Regions from separate parts of the Homo sapiens genome. Here region 1 is linked to region 2. A link means that fine-mapping ties the variant in region 2 to the expression of a gene that starts in the linked region. Tissue or cell type: monocytes after LPS. Region 2 holds a variant in brackets; the other region holds the start of a gene. All regions are shown on one strand. Distances are between the middles of the regions.

Region 1 (8,105 bases), 170 kb before region 2:
TGCAATGTGGGAAGGTACAAGATGAGAGACTGGACAAGCAGCCAGGGTCCCACATGAAGGGCCTGGAGTGCTCTAGAACCAGGTCTTTTTTTCCCCAGCTTTAGGGAAAATGATGAAGGATTTTAACCCTAAAGTGGACTGCACAAATTTGAATTATAATAAAATCATTGTGGCACCACTAGAGAGACTGAAGATTAGGGAGTTAACTTTTGCTTTGTTTTTGTTGTTTTCATTTTGTTTTGTTGAGTTGAAGTCTCACTCTGTTGCCCAGACTGGAGTGCAGTGGAACGATCATAGCTCACTGCAGCCTCCAACTCTTGGGCTTAAGTGATCCTCCCACCTCAGCCTCCAGAGTAGATGGGACTACAGGTGTGCGCCACAGAGATTTTATTTTTGGTCTAACAAGACTTTGTATTCAAGGCACTTGTAAGAAGGAAAAAGAGAGACAGAGCTAAACAGAGGTAAAACAATCACCCAGTTTAATTTTTATCTAAATGAAGTTTGCAAATAAGTAGCAAAGTCTGAAATTTACACATTGCATTCTAAATCATAAGAAATATTATCTTGTTTATCCAATCAGGACAAGGGCCTAAAAAAAAACCAGTTAAAGATGACATTATGGTCCATGTAGACAGAGAAGACTATCAGATTAGAGTGCTCAAAGGGACAAATCGCAGCTTTTCTGGGTTTCAGTTTCTTCATCTGTATAATGAAGGGTTCGGGGGTTCTTTACCTGAGCTATATTTCAATATAATTTGTTTTCTTTGTAATCCTACACATTTTATTTATTTAAATATTAAAACTTCTCTTATCTTGAGAAGGGGTTAATGTCATAAAAAAGGTTAAGAAGCTCTATATGATCTTTAGGGTCACTTACAACTCTCAACTTATAGGATTTTGGACATTCAAATACAGGAACTAAAAGAGAATACTACTGTATATGGATAAATAGGAAAGGGGCAGTAGGAAAAACACAATAGTATACACTGAGAAATTACATATAGGGATTAAAAGTCTGAGCCAGGGTGACATTATTTTTGCCTTTTCATTTCTCTTTCCTTTCTTCTATAGACTTAGGTTAATGCTGGTATTGTGACTGCTTGATGGCTCTCTTCTTTTGTATCCTTAAATTTACTGAAGTATGATTTATAGCAAAAAAAAAAACTTCATTAGTAAAGGCTATGAGAAAGGTTAGTTATAAGTGGAAAATTATATAATGAAGAGATTGGTAGTATTAGCAATCATATAAAAGAGGTAAGAACAAAAAGCCTTCTTGATAATATCCAGGCACAAAACTACTTGGGAAAGAAGCTAGGTAAATTAAAAAGTAATTTTTTTGAAAGTAAAAAAAATTTGGTTTTAAAAAGACGTGCAGAACAAAGCTAGTTGCTACCATCTTATAATTACAGGCATTTAATAGCAGGGATGCATCTCTCTTGAGTCTAGGTGATATGAATTTATAAGGTCACTGTTAGCATTCAAACTTAAAATGGTCAGCCAGGTGCAGTAGCTCGCGCCTGTAATCCTAGCACTTTGGGATGCTGAGGCAGGACGGATCACTTGAGCCTAGGAGTTTGAGACCAGCCTGGGCAACATAGTAAGACCCCATCTCTAAAAGAAAAAACAAAAACCTTAAAATGTATGTAGTTACCACATACAAAGGAAATTAGATTTAAAAAATTTAGGAACACTATTAAAACATGAACACTACAAAACATATTATCATCAGCAAAAAAGTGAATGAATGATGTAATTATTGCTTCACAGTGTTCTCACTATATACTTCATATTGAATCAGATTGAACCATCAAAATGGTTCTGATTCATGAAAGTCTCAGTGCATCATTTGTTCAGTTCAAAAGGACATCTAGCATCAGTTTGAAAAAAACCACTGAAAGATAACAATAATATAATCTGTACTATCCTTTTAAATAACATCTACTTAGTATTTATAAGCTTTCCTATTCCAGACATGAGTCCACAATGAGGCAGTCAGACAACTATTCAACTGAACAACAATAGAAAACTTTCAAAGCTGCAAAATCAAATCTAATCAATTTTAAAAATAGTATATATATTAAATTTGTAGGGATTTCCTCTCTTAGCAACAATCTGAGGGAAAAAAGCCTTTACTATTCTGTTTTTCTGGAGAAAAACTACAAAAACAATGCATGTGTCTAGTTTCCTTCAGGAGACTTAACAACCTAACAAATCTGTATGGGAAGGCAGGTTCCTGTCTGTACAGGTAGCTTTCTTCTCACACTCCCTAGTAATTTGCATATCTCTAAACCAGAGACAGGTAACTAAGGCACCTAAGGCAATCTTTAGTGTCACTGTACTCCTCCCAAGTGGTTTCTTTTAACAAGTATCTTATAAAGAACATATAAGTGCTATGCTTAGAAAACAAAGTCACTTTTTAGTGACTTTGTGATAGCCTTAAAATACAGTCTACAGCAACAAAATATTCTGATAATTTATTTATTTCAGAAAAACTGTACCAAGTGAATATTACAACTACTTATAAAAACTTGTAAATTTCTTCAGTTTTAGTCCAGGCAATAAATATTACATGTTCAGTGAAGTAGAAAAATATTCAGAATTCGCATTTCTAGAAGAACTATCATACTTGATTCAGGAAAGCAAAATATTTTCTAGGTACAAGGTATTTAGAAATCATGTGTAACCATACTTCATTATATAAAATGAACCCTATTCAAACGAATCTACTAAACAGGGCCGCAAAGGTACACAAAACATAAGTCAGTAGAGGGATTTAATTTTCAAAAGGACTTTTCAAAACACAACTTGTACACAACTTGAAGAAATCGGCTCTGTTTAAAAATAGACTTATTTTTACTAGTTTATTCTAGAACAGAGCATAAACTACTATTCAATAAACGTATGAAGCACTACTCACCTCCATTTCCACCGCGGCAATACTCTGGTCATAATGACCCATCAGATTAGGGAAAAACGTCATGTTGTAGGCCATTTTCATACATCTGGGAACAGTAATTGGTTCACAGGTGAAGAGACTGTGCCCTCTTAGGAGGGGTAGAAAAATACACGTCAACAAAAATGTAAACATTTCCATTTTCTTCAAATTCCTGATTTTACCACATGGCTTGGATGAATCACTCTTTGCATCCTCAGAAGATCCCCATCCAAAGATAAAATGTTCAAATTCCTCATTTCACTATTTTACTCATTTTCAGGCTTTCCTGAAAATGAGTCCTGGGTCAATTACTGTAAAAACAAAAGGAGGGTGTATCAGCAACATTTGTCATAAACTCAAATGTGGAGTCAAAGTGCAGAGTTAAGATTTTCACCCCAGGTAACAAACACTGGAAAAACAACGGAAAATTCTGTCCTAACGAGATACTCTTCCACCTGCCTTAGCATGGAATATATCATTTGCTAAGGAAGCTGCACCTCTAGGAAACCGATGCTAGGAGGTTGGTGCTGTATGGAAGACAGGGTTAAAAAGAGGGAATGGCAAGAGTAAGATGGAGGAAAAAAGGAAAGCTGGTGATTCGGAGTAAATTATAAAGGATTAATATAAGCATACAATCTAAGGGCCCCTGTTGGAAAGCTTATTAAGTACAAGAAAACTAAGGCCCTGGGAAATTCCTTAAGACCCAAAGAGTTCTTAAACTTGTAAAAGACTCTGAAGAGTCAGTTTTTGTGGCAGTCTTCTGGGTATGTAGTTTTCTCGATTTTCGTAAGGCCAACTAGAGGGAGACTTTTAGGATTCCTCCAGTGGAGGAGCAACATTGCAGTTTTCACTGGCTAGGAGGGTGTAGTGCTGCCGTCGAAAGGAAAGTGCGCAAATCTGTCCCGGGGGAAGGGCGAAGGCAGTCCCCTTGCGGGAGGAAGGCTGTAGGCCCCGGATTACGAATTACCCGCGCCCCAACACACACTGATGCCCGGTCCGCCAGCGCCCCACACCCGGGAACCTGCCCCAGGCCTAGAGCCAGACAGCAGCGTTCCTGGCCTGCGCGGCGCCGCGGGGCCCCGGCATCGCCTTTCAGAGCCGGTTCCCGCTTCCGAGGAAACTCAGGTGCGGGCCGTCCCGCCGTTGCCTCCCCAGCACCTGCGGCTCCCGGCGCGCCTCATCCCAGCCGCGGCCCCTCGCCCCTCGAGGCCCTCCCCGCTTCCCCCGGCACCCGCCCGGCCCCTGCCCAGTCCCAGCCGTGGAAGCCTCACCTCGGGGGGCGGTCGAAGGCCGCTGTCCCTTCCCGTCCCCGTCTAACCCACCGTTCCCCCCAGGGACCTGAGACGGCTCCGGGGTTGCGTCCGGGACTGGAGCTGCCTCGAGAGCCGCACGGGGAGCGAGAGCTGAGCGATCCCGCGAGACTGCGCCGCCAGGTCGGGCGGGCAGGTCCGGGCTCGCGGCGGCGGCGGCGGCGGCGGCGGCGGCGGCGGCGGGACTGGCCCTGCGCCCGGGCACCGCCTGCGCTGCGCCGCCCGGCCTCACTCCGCGGCCCGCCAGGACCCGGCCCCGGTGAACGGGCTCGGGGTGCCGAGGTCCGGCTGCGGGGCCGGGAAGCCACCTCCACCTTGCCGTCTGTTACGACCCCCGAGGCGCAAGGCTGAGCCCCATCTCGCTATCCGGGTCCGGAGGGGTTCACCTTAGAAGGATTTTTTGAAGCTCTTGGCGCTGGCTCTAAAAGAACCCACTTCCTTGCGGATTTCAGGAGTCAAGAATCCTTAAACGGAGCCAATTTGCTTTGTAAAGCCAATTGCCCAAGTGACTTGAGTTCGAAAGGAGATACTTCCTGGACAACTGCTATAAAAACAACAACAAATACTTTTATTAATTCGGGGAGCCTGGTCACCAACTGGATGCTCAGGTAGCAGTGGGATTCCAGCCCTGGCGGGTCCCACAGTTTTATTGATACAAACCCTAATAGGAAGTTGAACTGCTGTAGAAATCAACCTAGTTTGGGGTACCAACTCTGTCATAGATATTAGATAAATTACCCTAATCTTTAAGGGGCATAGTTTCCTCACAATATAGGAATGACAATAGTTGTAATGATGGTTAACGTTAATTGAGCACTGGCTGTAAGTCAAATAGTGCCAAGTTCGTTACAAGTGTTTACACCTAACCTGTAAGGCCCTCCTATGAAACAGGCAGAATAGTATGAGAAGCAAATGAACTTGTAGAAGTACTTTGAAAAATGCAAAGTAACTTGTAGATGGAGGCTATTCTTGTCAGATAAATCATCCTGTTGCAGAAAAGGAATGTCATATTTCCATACCTAGAAGGACAACCCTGAACAACCAGAGTAAGAGTTTTGGAATCTGTGGGGAAAGACGAATTTGGAGTGGGGAATTCCTCCCCAGTTTTATCAAAAGCTTACTGATGTTGGGAGACAGGTAGTGATGAAGAAATATTAACATCATTAAGAGCTGGATAGTTGATGTATTGCAGAATAAATTTCTATGTAGGAAGAATATTTTCCCCTAAATTTCTAATTTTCTACATTGGAAGACTATTTCTCTCCAGTTTCTACGAACTTAATGAGATCTTTTTGTGATCAGGCTCTAGTGACTACCAGGCAGTGAAGTATCACTAAAAGTATCATTTAAAAACGATACTTTTTAAAATATCGTTTGAAAACGATACTTTTAAAGTATCATTTGAAAACGATAGTTTTGAAATTCAAGTGAATACTTGTTCCATTATTTGGAAGGAAAAATTGTAGTAAGTTGATTTATACAGAAGTAAATAAAGCCTGTTTTATTTTTCATTGTATTTAATTATATAGTGAGCAGTGATGAACTAGAATGATTTTTTTTTTGTCAGGATGGATTTGGAATACTTAGGCAATCATCTATATCATCGCTTGTCTTTCACTGTACAATTTCATCCCAATGGTACGAGATTAAGAACACAAACTTTGGAGTTCAAAATCCCTGGGTTCAAAACCTAGCTCCAGCATTTACTTGCTGTGTGAACTTGAGCAAATTATTCAGATCCTCTTTAGTTTCTTCATCTGTAAATATGGAACTATCTGACGGTTTTCCTCATTTTCCTTCTCTTTCTCTTTGCATTGTTCCTCTGGGCTGATGCTAGGGGACAGTGGTGACCAAAAGTAGAAGAAACAGACTTTTACTTTTAAAGGCTAATTTTGCAAGGTACAGAATTATAGGTTGGTAGTTTTTTTCTCTGAACACTTTTACTCCACCTCTCTTCTTGTCTACGTGGTTTCTGAGAAGTTGGATGTCATTCTTTATTTTTGTTCCTCTATAGGTAAGCTCCTCATCATTAAGTATATTGTTACCTTAGGGTTTTTGTAGATGTTCTTTAGCAAGTGAGAAAGTTCCCCCTCTGTCCCTAGTTTGCTGAAAGTTTTTATGATGAAAATGTGCTGGATTTTGTCAAATGCATTTTCTGCATCTATTGATGTGGTCATGTGATTTTTCTTCTTTAGTCTATTGGTATGGTAGATTACATGAATGAATTTTCAAATATTGGACCAGCCTTGCATACCTGGGATAAATCTTGGTTATGCTGTACAATTCTTTTTATGCATTGCTGGATTCTACTAGCTAATATTTTGTTGAGGATTTTTACATCTTTGTTCAAGAGATATATTGGTTTATAGTTTTCTTTGCTAGTAATGTTTTTGTCTGGTTTTGGTATTAGGGCAATGCTGCTAGGAAGTATTCCCCCTGCTTCTATCTTCTGGAAGAGATTTTAGAGAGTTGGTCTAACATTGTTGGTGACTGACATTAATTTGGGGAAATTTTCAGTCACTATTGCTTCAAATATTTCTTCTGTTCCTTTCTCTAATTCTTCTCCTGGTATTCCTGTTACACATATGTTATACTTTTGTAGTTGTTTCACAGTTCTTGGATATTGTTTCTTTTTTTTAAGTCCTTTTTCTCTTTATTTTTCAATTTTGGAAGTTTCCATTGACATATCCTCAAACTCAGAGATTCTTTTCTCAACCATGTCCAGTCTATTAATGAATCCATCAAAGGCATGCTTCATTTCTGTTATAGAATTTTATATCTCTAGCAATTCTTATTCTTCCTTAAAATTTTCATTTCTGCTTACATTAACCGTCTGTTCTTTCAAGTTGTCTACGTTTACCTTTACAACCCTTAGTATATTAATCACAGTTATTTGAAGTTCCTGGTCTGATAATTCCAACATCTCTGCCGTATGTGAGTCTAGTTCTGATGATTGCTTTGCCTCTTCAAACTGTGTTTTTTGCTCTGTAGTGTGCCTTGTAATTTTTAGTTGAAAGCTGGACATGATGCACTGGGTGAAAGGCACTGGAGTAAATGGGCTTCAGTGATGCGGTGTTAAGATGTGGGAGGAGGGGAAACATTCTATAGACCTATGATTAGATTTCAGTCTTAGTGAGCTTGTGTCCCTAGGCTGGAAACTTCACAAGTGCTTCTTAGTTTTTATCCCCCTTCTTGGGTGGGACAGGATGTCTAGAGGGGGCTGGGGTTGGATATTTCCCATCTATCAGCTTGGTTAGGCTCTGCTAAAACTGTAATAGGTTAGGCTCTGGTAGTTTCTCTTGAGGGCAGGCCTTGTTAAAAAGAACAGAATATTTTGACATATTTCAAAATGGTTCTTTTCACCTCTCCCTGTTGGATGTAGGAGGTGATTTTTCTTTGATTTTCACTGAGAGAACCTGGAAGAACTCCTGGAGGTAAAACTTACAAAAGTGTGAGTGTGCCCTCCAAAGACTAGGCCCCCTCCCCCTTTGTGTGTGTGTGTGTGTGTGTGTGTGTGTGTGTGTTTGTGTGTGTGTGTGTCTCACTCTGTTGCCAGGCTGGAGTGCAGTGGCGTGATCTTGGCTCACTGCAACCTCCGCCTCCTGGGTTCAAATGGTTCTCCCACCTCACCCTCCCGAGTAGCTGGGATTATAGGTGCACACCACCATGCCCAGCTAATTTTTGTATTTTTAGTAGAGACGGGGTTTCACCGTATTGGCCAGGATGGTCTCTGTCTCCTGACCTCGTGATCTCCCTGCCTAGGCCTCCCAAAGTGCTGGGATTACAGGCGTGAGCCACCGTGCCCAGCTGACCCCCTGGAGTTTTAAATTCTTAGTCTTGACCACCCTGAGCCTCTAGCA
Region 2 (8,105 bases):
AGAAAAAGCAGGGAAATCAGTTTGGAGATTGTTACAATAGTCAAGGCAAGAGATAATAGTGATTCATACACTAAGGCAGTGGCAGTGATGATGGAGAAAATGGATAGATTCAAGACACATTCTGGAGGTAGAGTAAGAAGCCTTGCTGATATTTTAAATGTCAGAAGTAAGGAAGAGGGAGAAAACAAGAATGACTTTCCAGTTTCTGCTTGTATATCTAGGTAGGTGAGGAAGACTTAATGAGGAATAAATTTGGAGAAAAAAAAATCAGGATGTCTGTTTTGGATATTTTGAGTTAAACATGCCTGGGAGACAAGTAGGCAATTAGATAGAGAAGATGAAGAATCAAAAGAAGATCAGTGTTGGAGCCATGAACAAAGTGTGCAATTTCCTAAGGAGAAAGTGGTAGACATAGAGAGAGAGAAAGAGGATGGCCTGAGATCACGCTTTGAGGAAACCCCTCTTTAGAGGACTGGCAGAGGAAAATGAACTTGAGAAGTAAGCTGGGGAGGAGAAATCAAAGAAGCAGAAAACAAACCCAAAAAGGTATAGTGTCACAAAAGCCCAGAGAAGAGCACCTGTCAGGAAGAAAGCATTCAATTTTGACTAAGGCTCCTGAGTGTTTGTGTGAGTCAAGGATGAAAAACAGCCCATTGTTGGGAACATGAACATCACTGGTGAATTTGGTAAAAGTGGCAGTGGAGGGGTAGCTTCACAGCCAGAGCAAGTGGGTTAATGAGTAGATGGGAACACATGCATGTAATTTTACTTGTTTCTCAAGCCAAACACGCACACACACAAACACTAAAGTGATTATCTTTAACATAAACCCATGAGGATGGTAAGACGGGGAGAGGACAAAAATGCCACAGTATTTTGAAAGCTGGAAACCATTTGGAGAAGTTTTAGCTAATTTAGTGGGCTGAAGAAGGTGGAATCCTATGTCAGTAGTGAGGAAACTTAAAACCAACACCATTTGCACCTCAAATTTTTCAAAGTCTCAGGAGTTAGTGGCACCGGAAACTTTAAAAATAGAGGTAGGGCAAGTGGGTGGGAATTGGCATTAAAATAAGGAGAATTAGTTGAAAGCAATTTAAAAAGGAATTATATTTGCAGACCCCTACCATACTCTTAATAGATGCCCTTCCCCATCCTGGCAGAAGACTGGATTCATTCTCTGGAAAAGATCAAACAATGAGTCTCTTGACTGGAATATCAAATAGGACAATTAAGAGACTGTATGCTTACCTGTGCTGAGACTTTCAGGCTTCTTTCCCTCCTCACCTGCCAGAGCACACGTAGGAAAGATTCTCTTGGAAAACCAACCAATCCAGAGAAAACACCTAACGATACATCAGGGCTGCCCAAGGAAATAGTCAAGCCAGATTGCCCTACTGTGAAGCTCATAGTGGGTAAGTTCCACTCAGGTGAACAAAGCTTCAAATCAGCTTTTTTGGTTTCCACAGTCAAGGATAAGCAGACAGCAGGTATTAAAAGATATCTGAAGAAAGACTCTAATGCAAAAGAGCTACTTGGAAAAAAATGGGAACTATATAAGAGGAAGAAAACGTCAAGAAAACTGTATTTAATGTCCTCAGAGAGATCAGAGGAGATGTTACAACCCTAAAAAAAGAAAAGAATACAAATAAAATAGAACCTTTAGAGAACAATCAACAACCACAAAAAGCCCTTGGTAATTAAATATATGATGGAAGAAGTGAAAAACTTAGTAGAGAGCTAGAAAAACGAAACTGAGGCATGAAAAGGCCAAAAAAAAAAAAAAAAACAGAATATAGAAAAGAAAATTAGAGGATCAGTCTAGGAGATCCAGCACCCAAATAATAGGGATTCCAGAAAGAGATAAGAGAGCACAGAAGGGAAGAAATCACCAATGAAATAATTCAAGAAATTTTTCTAGAATTAAACTGTCAAAACGGATTAAACGTACCCCAAAGAATGCCATCATAAATTTTCAGAAACCTGGGGACAAAGAGAAGATCCTACAAGCTTCCAAGAGAAAAATGTGTCACATACATAAGATTAAGAATCAGAATGCCAGATAGGAATGGTGACAAGTGTCTATCATCCCAGCTACTTGGAAAGCTACGGTGGGAGGATCCCTTGAGCCTAGGAGTTCAAATCCAACCTGGGTAGCATAGCAAGACCCTGTATCTAAAAATAAAAAACAGAAGTTTTAAAAGAATCAGAATGTCTTTGGAATTCTCAATCACAAGACTAGAGGCTAGAATACAGTGGACTGTAGCCTTCAAAATTCTGAATAAATTATTTTAAGCCTAGATTTTTTATTCCTAGCCATCAATTAAGTGAAAAGTCAAAATAAAGGCATTTATATTTGCAAGGTCTCAAAAATTTTACCTCACATGCACTTCTGAAGAAGTAACTAGAAGACGCATTCCACCAAAACAGGAAAGAAAAGTTTGGAGCCAGGACCCAGGCAAAAGATGAAGGGAATCCCTAGACTGATGAAAAGACCTCCAAAGAAACTGTTCTATTCATAATAACAAAGACATAGGATCAACCTAAATGCCCATCAACGGCAGCTCGAATACAGAAAATGTGGTACATACACACCATTAAATGCAGCCATTTTAAAGAGTGAGATCATGTCCTTTGCAGTAACATGGATGGGGCTGGAGGCCACTATCCTTTGCAAACTAACACAGGAACAGAAAACCAAATATCATATGTTCTCACTTATAAGTATGAGCTAAATGATAAGAATTCATGGACACAAAGAGGGTAGCAACAGACACGGGGGTCTACCTGAGGGTGGAGAGTGGGAGGAGGGAGAGGAGCAGAAAAAATAACTATCAGGTACTAGGCTTAGTATTTGGGTGACTAAATAATCTGTACACCAGACTTCCATGACACAAGTTTACCCATATAACAAATCTGCACATGTACCCCTGAACCTAAAATAAAAGTTAAAAGAAAAAGAAAACACAACAAAACAAAACAGTGCTACACCAGGTCTTGAGGGTGGTTTGGAGACAATCCAAATTGGAGAAAGTCAGAGGTTTTGGAAGGGATTCTTCAAGAGGACAAAACTAATAGCATAAATCTAGACGTTTTGAGCAGAAAGATAAATTATGGCAGTTTGAAGTTGGACTGGTAATAAGTAGAAAACTAAGCAAATAAAAAATTATTCCCAAGGAAAATTAAAAGTTGTGTAAGGAAGAAAAAGTAGTCTAAGCTTACTAGATGACTCTGCTCTCGATATCACTATATAATCAAAATAAAGTAAACATGGATTACTGAACCAAGGAAAGTTAAGATGTAACCATGCAGGAATGGTAGGAGGTGGAAAGAATGTATGTGCATGCTGTGGGAAGGGGAAAGAATGAGAGCTAAATCCTCCTCCTCTGTAGGGGCAGTCAATAGCTACTGCTCACAATTGAGGGATCATTAAGTAGCCCAATACTAGCATTTTATTCAGAAACACAGAGCTAAATGCCAAAAAGAAAAAGCAGCTACAAGAGTTGTAAGTAGTTGTCTCTGATGGGGAAAGCAGAGGACTGTTGGTTTTCATAACAAGTCTTATAGAACTCTTGAGTCTTTAAAATATGTGCAAATAACCTTGCTAAAAATAGAAACCAAGTAAAAGCAAAGGCAAATGGAGAGTGAAAAAGGGAAAGTGGCAGCTATAGACATATATTTTGAGAGATCTGGTTCCTAAGAGGAATAGAAAAGTGAATTAGGGTAGGTGGGGTCAAGGGTGGGTTTTGTTTTGTTTTGTTTTGTTTTGTTTTGTTTTGTTTTAAGACAGGGTCTTGCTCTGTCAGCCAGGCTGGAGTGCAGTAGTATGATCATGGCTCACTATAGCTTTGACCACCTGGGCTGAAGTGATCCTCCCACCTCAGCCTCCCAAGCACCTGGAAGCAGTAAGCAAGCAGAGAGGAGCAGAACTACCCTAAGAGTAAATTATGGTAGATGTGCCACGATCGAGATCCTCACTCTTGGGCCAGCAGCGAGGGGGAGAGGCCGAAACTAAGACCTTCATTAAACCAGAACTCATTAGGAGCTCTAAATGGTTCCAAGCTGGCAGTGACCCCTGGCTCTCTGGGTGCCACCATGCCCAGCTAATTTTTTATTTTTTGTAAAGATGGGGTTTCACCATGTTGCCCAGGTTGGTCTTGAACTCCTGGGCTCAAGTGATCCTCCTGTCTCAGCCTCCCAAAGTCTTGGGATTACAGGTGTGAACCACCAAACCTGGCCAAGGGTGGGTTTTTTAAAGATGGGAAAATGTGGGATGGGAACTGTCTCCCTGCGAGG[G/C]AGTTGATGGTGCAGCAGAGGGAGGATTCCAATGGAGCAGGGTCCTTGAGAAGATGAAGGGGACGGGATCTAGAACCCACTGTGTGGGGTGGGCTTTGATGCAACAGAGACACCTCCTTTACTGGACAAAAGGGAAGAAAAAGGTAGGTGGAGACACGAGTGGAATTATAGAATTTCTCATGGCCATGCTTGTCTTATCAGGCCTCAAGACACCCAGAATAGAACATAATATAATACACCAGTAATTCTGTGAGAAGTAACACACAAACTACACCCAGACACGTGTTCCTTCAACCTTCCTACAGTGCAGAATGATAAAACTGCATATGTTTGATGAATAATTCCCTCACAATAGATGTATTACCATTTTGTCTCATAGAAATAAGAACATCTGCATTAAAAAAAAAAAGACTTCCACTGATAACATCTCAGACCAAATATTCTCATAGGCCCTTGATATGGTTTGGCTGTGTCCCCACCTAAATCTCATCTTGAATTGTAATCCCATAATCCCCACATATGAGACCCGGTGGGAGGTAATTGAATCATGGAGGCGGTTACCCTCATGCTGTTCTCCTGACAGTGAGTGAGTTCTCACAAGATCTGATGGTTTTATAAGGAACTTTTCCCCCTTTTGCTCGGCACTTCTCCTTGCTGCCGCCATGTGAAGAAGGATGTGCTTGTTTCCCCTTCCACCAGGATTATAAGTTTCCTGAGGCTTCCTCAGCCCTGTGGAGCTATGAGTCAATTACACTTCTCTCCTTTATACATTACCCAGTCTCAGGTATGTCCTTATTAGTAGCATGAGAACGGACTAATACAGCTCTCCTTCTGCAAAACAATTACATCCTAGATAAAACATAGATGAGATGGGCTTGTAGGAGATAGAGGATGTTGCCAAGGGACTCCTCCACATGAAATGGAGCAAACTATAAGTAGAAATTAGAGCTGGAAGCAGTGAGCAAGCAGGGAGGAGCAGAACTACCCTAAGAGCAAATGATCCAGATCCTCACTCTTGGGCCAGCAATGAGGAGGGGAGGCCAAACCTAAGACCTTCATTAAACCAGAACTCACGAGGAGCTCTAAATGGTTCCAAGCTGGCAGTGACCCATGGCTCTCAGAAGAAGCAGATGCAAATCTTCCCTAAAGAGAGCACCCCCAACCTAAGCCGAGAAGACTCCCACAGATGAAGATCTAATAAATACACAGTCAGAGATCAGCAGGCCCAGGAGGGGCAATACCACCATGAGTGAGAGTCGGCAGACACATTTTAAAGAAAAGATGGGAAAAGCAAATCACGAATGAAATAAAAGACCCATCTGTGGCTTTGAATATCACCTGAATAGTTACTAGAATGCACATATCTCGGTCCCATTCCAGACCTACTGAGCCTGGGAATGTCTTAATGCTCATTCCCCACAGAGAGGAAGCCAGACAGCTCGTTGCACAGACCCTATTTTCCTTTCCACAATCATCTTCCTATAGCTTTTGCTATCCTTGCAGGGAGATGTAAGTGCAGCAGGCACATCTATTCAAAGGCAAAAATAAAACTAAGAAAATAGCTAAACAAGACAGCACCCCCTAGTGCCGGGAAGGTAGGAACCAACTTGGCTTGGGTGCTCCCTGTCTCCTGCAGAGCAGAGCACGACCCTAGACTGTCCAGTCCACGAGCCCTGGAGGCATCACTATGCGGGAATGAAATGTTGGTCACACTTCAGTGACTACAATGCACAAAATACTGTGATTGAAGATAATGGGAAATGGGCACCGTAATAATAACGAATGTTTTAATTAATAGCTTAAGGTAAACTGTGTTCACCGGGAATCTAGAAGTGCTTATGTAATCCATAGAAAACTTTGCAGTGGGGACCAAGAAGGGGCTAGGAAAAGAACTCTTTTTAAAGAAAGAGAGCGTCAGGCATGGGCTGGGTCCAAAGACAATGAGCCCATTCCAAATAGAAGAGATAATTTTGAGTACAGTAGAGGCTGGTTTTAATTTACCTGGCCCAACCTCAATGGCCCTTATCTTATGGAGAGCACCCAACAGAAAAAGGAAAACTGCAAACAAAGGATAGCACTGCTTTGCAGTTTTGTAGCTTAAGGAGCATGCTATTAGGCTAAGAGGAAAATGGGAAATGGAAAATGCCTTGTGTGAAAACCAGTAACAACAGCCAAGTGTGGTGGCACACAGCTGTAATCTGAGCACTTTGGGAGGCTGAGGCAGGCGGATTACTTGAGGTCTGGAGTTCAAGACCAGCCTGGCCAACACGGTGAAACCCCGTCTCTACTAAAAAATACAAAAATCAGCTGGGCGCGGTGGCACACGCCTGTAGTCCCAGCTACTCTGGAGGCTGAGGCAACAGAATCGCTTGAACCCGAGAGGCGGAGTCTGCAGTGAGCCAAGATTGTGCCACTGCACTCCAGCCTGGGCAACAGAGTGAGACTCCGTCTCAAAAAAAAAAAAAAAATGAAAAAAAGAAAGAAAGAAAACAAAACAACAACAATAACCAATCAGCCCTATCAGGCAGGTATTATTCCTGTGATTATGTTACAGATGAGCAAAATGACTTCAGAGAGGTTGAGTAACTTGCTCAACTTTACCCAGCAATAAATTGTGGAGGCAAGCCTGTGATTATGTTACAGATGAGCAAAATGAGTTCAGAGAGGTTGAGTAACTTGCTCAACTTTACCCAGCAATAAATTGTGGGGGCAAGCCCAAGCATAGGACTTGCTCAACTTTATAGGTCATGTTCTTAATAGATGTTTTTCTGATTTGATTGTTTAAAGAGGTGACTGAATTTCATGATTCAAGATTTAGGAAAATTATTACACAATGCTTAGTGAAAATTTCTTCTCCTATCACTGCCCCCAGGCCCCCAGCTTCCCTCCTCATAGGCAACCAGCGTCATTAGATGAGGTGTAATATTCTAGAGATATTTTCTGAGTTTCATTTTGCTACACCATTCTGAAGCTCACATTTTTCACCTAGGAAAATATCTTGCAGATCACTCCTTATCAGTACACAAAGAGCTTCCTTGTTCTGTTTTCCAGCTGCAGGATTTCATCGTGTGCGGAGGTGCCATGATCTTGCTCACCAGTCCCCAGTCAATAGACATTAGCCCCATTTCCATTCTTCACTGTAGCTGATGCTCTTTATTCTGAGAAAACTCCACTCCCTCCTGAGAGATCGTGAGAGTCTCCCGTGACAATTAGCCTCCTCTAAGCCACAAGACATGGCCACGTTCTCAAGTTACTTTAACAAATGGAGTGCATTGTGAGACACACAAGAACACAGACCAAAAAAAAGAAACTGGGAAGCAGCCTGACAAAGGCAGGTGGAGAGTAGCCCCACCCTGGGCACCAGGCACCTCTGCCCATTTCCTGCCACCACCCATGGCTGTGAGGGGCTCCATGAGCCACCCAGACACTGTCACCATGTCTCCCATCCTGCCAGTTGCTGGGCTTTGGCAACTAATCAGCCTGCATCTAAAAGCAAGGTCATTTTAAGAGGGTCTCTGTGACTCTGGCCTCGCTTGCTGAGTCCAAATGTCCATACAGGAGAGGGGCAGGATCTCTATCACATGGCCCCCTTGCTACCAGTGGAGGGTGTCCAGGTTCTTGGGGTCTTGAACAAAGAACTGGACAAAGTTACAAACAAAGGAAGGAAAGAATGAAGCAACAAAAGCAGAGATTTATTGAAAATGAGGTGGGAGTGGCCCCGAGCATAGGGGCTCAAGAGCCCTGTTACAGAATTTTCTGGGGTTTAAATACCCTCTAGAGGTTTCCATTGGTTACTTGGTGTACGCCCTGTG

Alleles and levels. Positions count from the first base shown, and alleles are read on the strand shown. Sizes are in standard deviations (SD) of each study's normalised expression.
In carriers of allele C in region 2, the expression in monocytes after LPS of the gene that starts at base 4,304 in region 1 tends to be higher than with G alone (moderate effect, 0.44 SD a copy in Fairfax 2014).

What was found. PIP is the estimated chance that this variant, and not a neighbour inherited with it, causes the effect.
Region 1: FZD6 starts here. The variant in region 2 is fine-mapped to the expression of FZD6 in monocytes after LPS (Fairfax 2014, PIP 0.90).

What each region holds. Positions count from the first base shown.
Region 1 is chr8:103,295,097-103,303,201 of GRCh38, reverse strand. FZD6 (frizzled class receptor 6) reads right to left here and starts at 4,304. Exons shown (of 7, transcript NM_003506.4): 1 at 4,207-4,304; 2 at 2,918-3,246. The coding sequence starts at 3,094. It overlaps LOC105369147 (a long non-coding RNA gene), which reads left to right and starts at 4,384. Exons shown (of 2, transcript NR_148216.1): 1 at 4,384-4,853. RefSeq lists enhancers at 3,824-3,873, 3,727-4,227, 4,228-4,728 and silencers at 3,867-4,161, 4,024-4,273, 4,394-4,563, 4,574-4,623.
Region 2 is chr8:103,122,853-103,130,957 of GRCh38, reverse strand. The region is part of intron 1 of LINC01181 (long intergenic non-protein coding RNA 1181); the gene reads right to left. Among named protein-coding and RNA genes, the nearest start is that of LINC01181, 5.9 kb to the right of the region's middle. The variant G/C (reference allele first, on the strand shown) is at 4,294.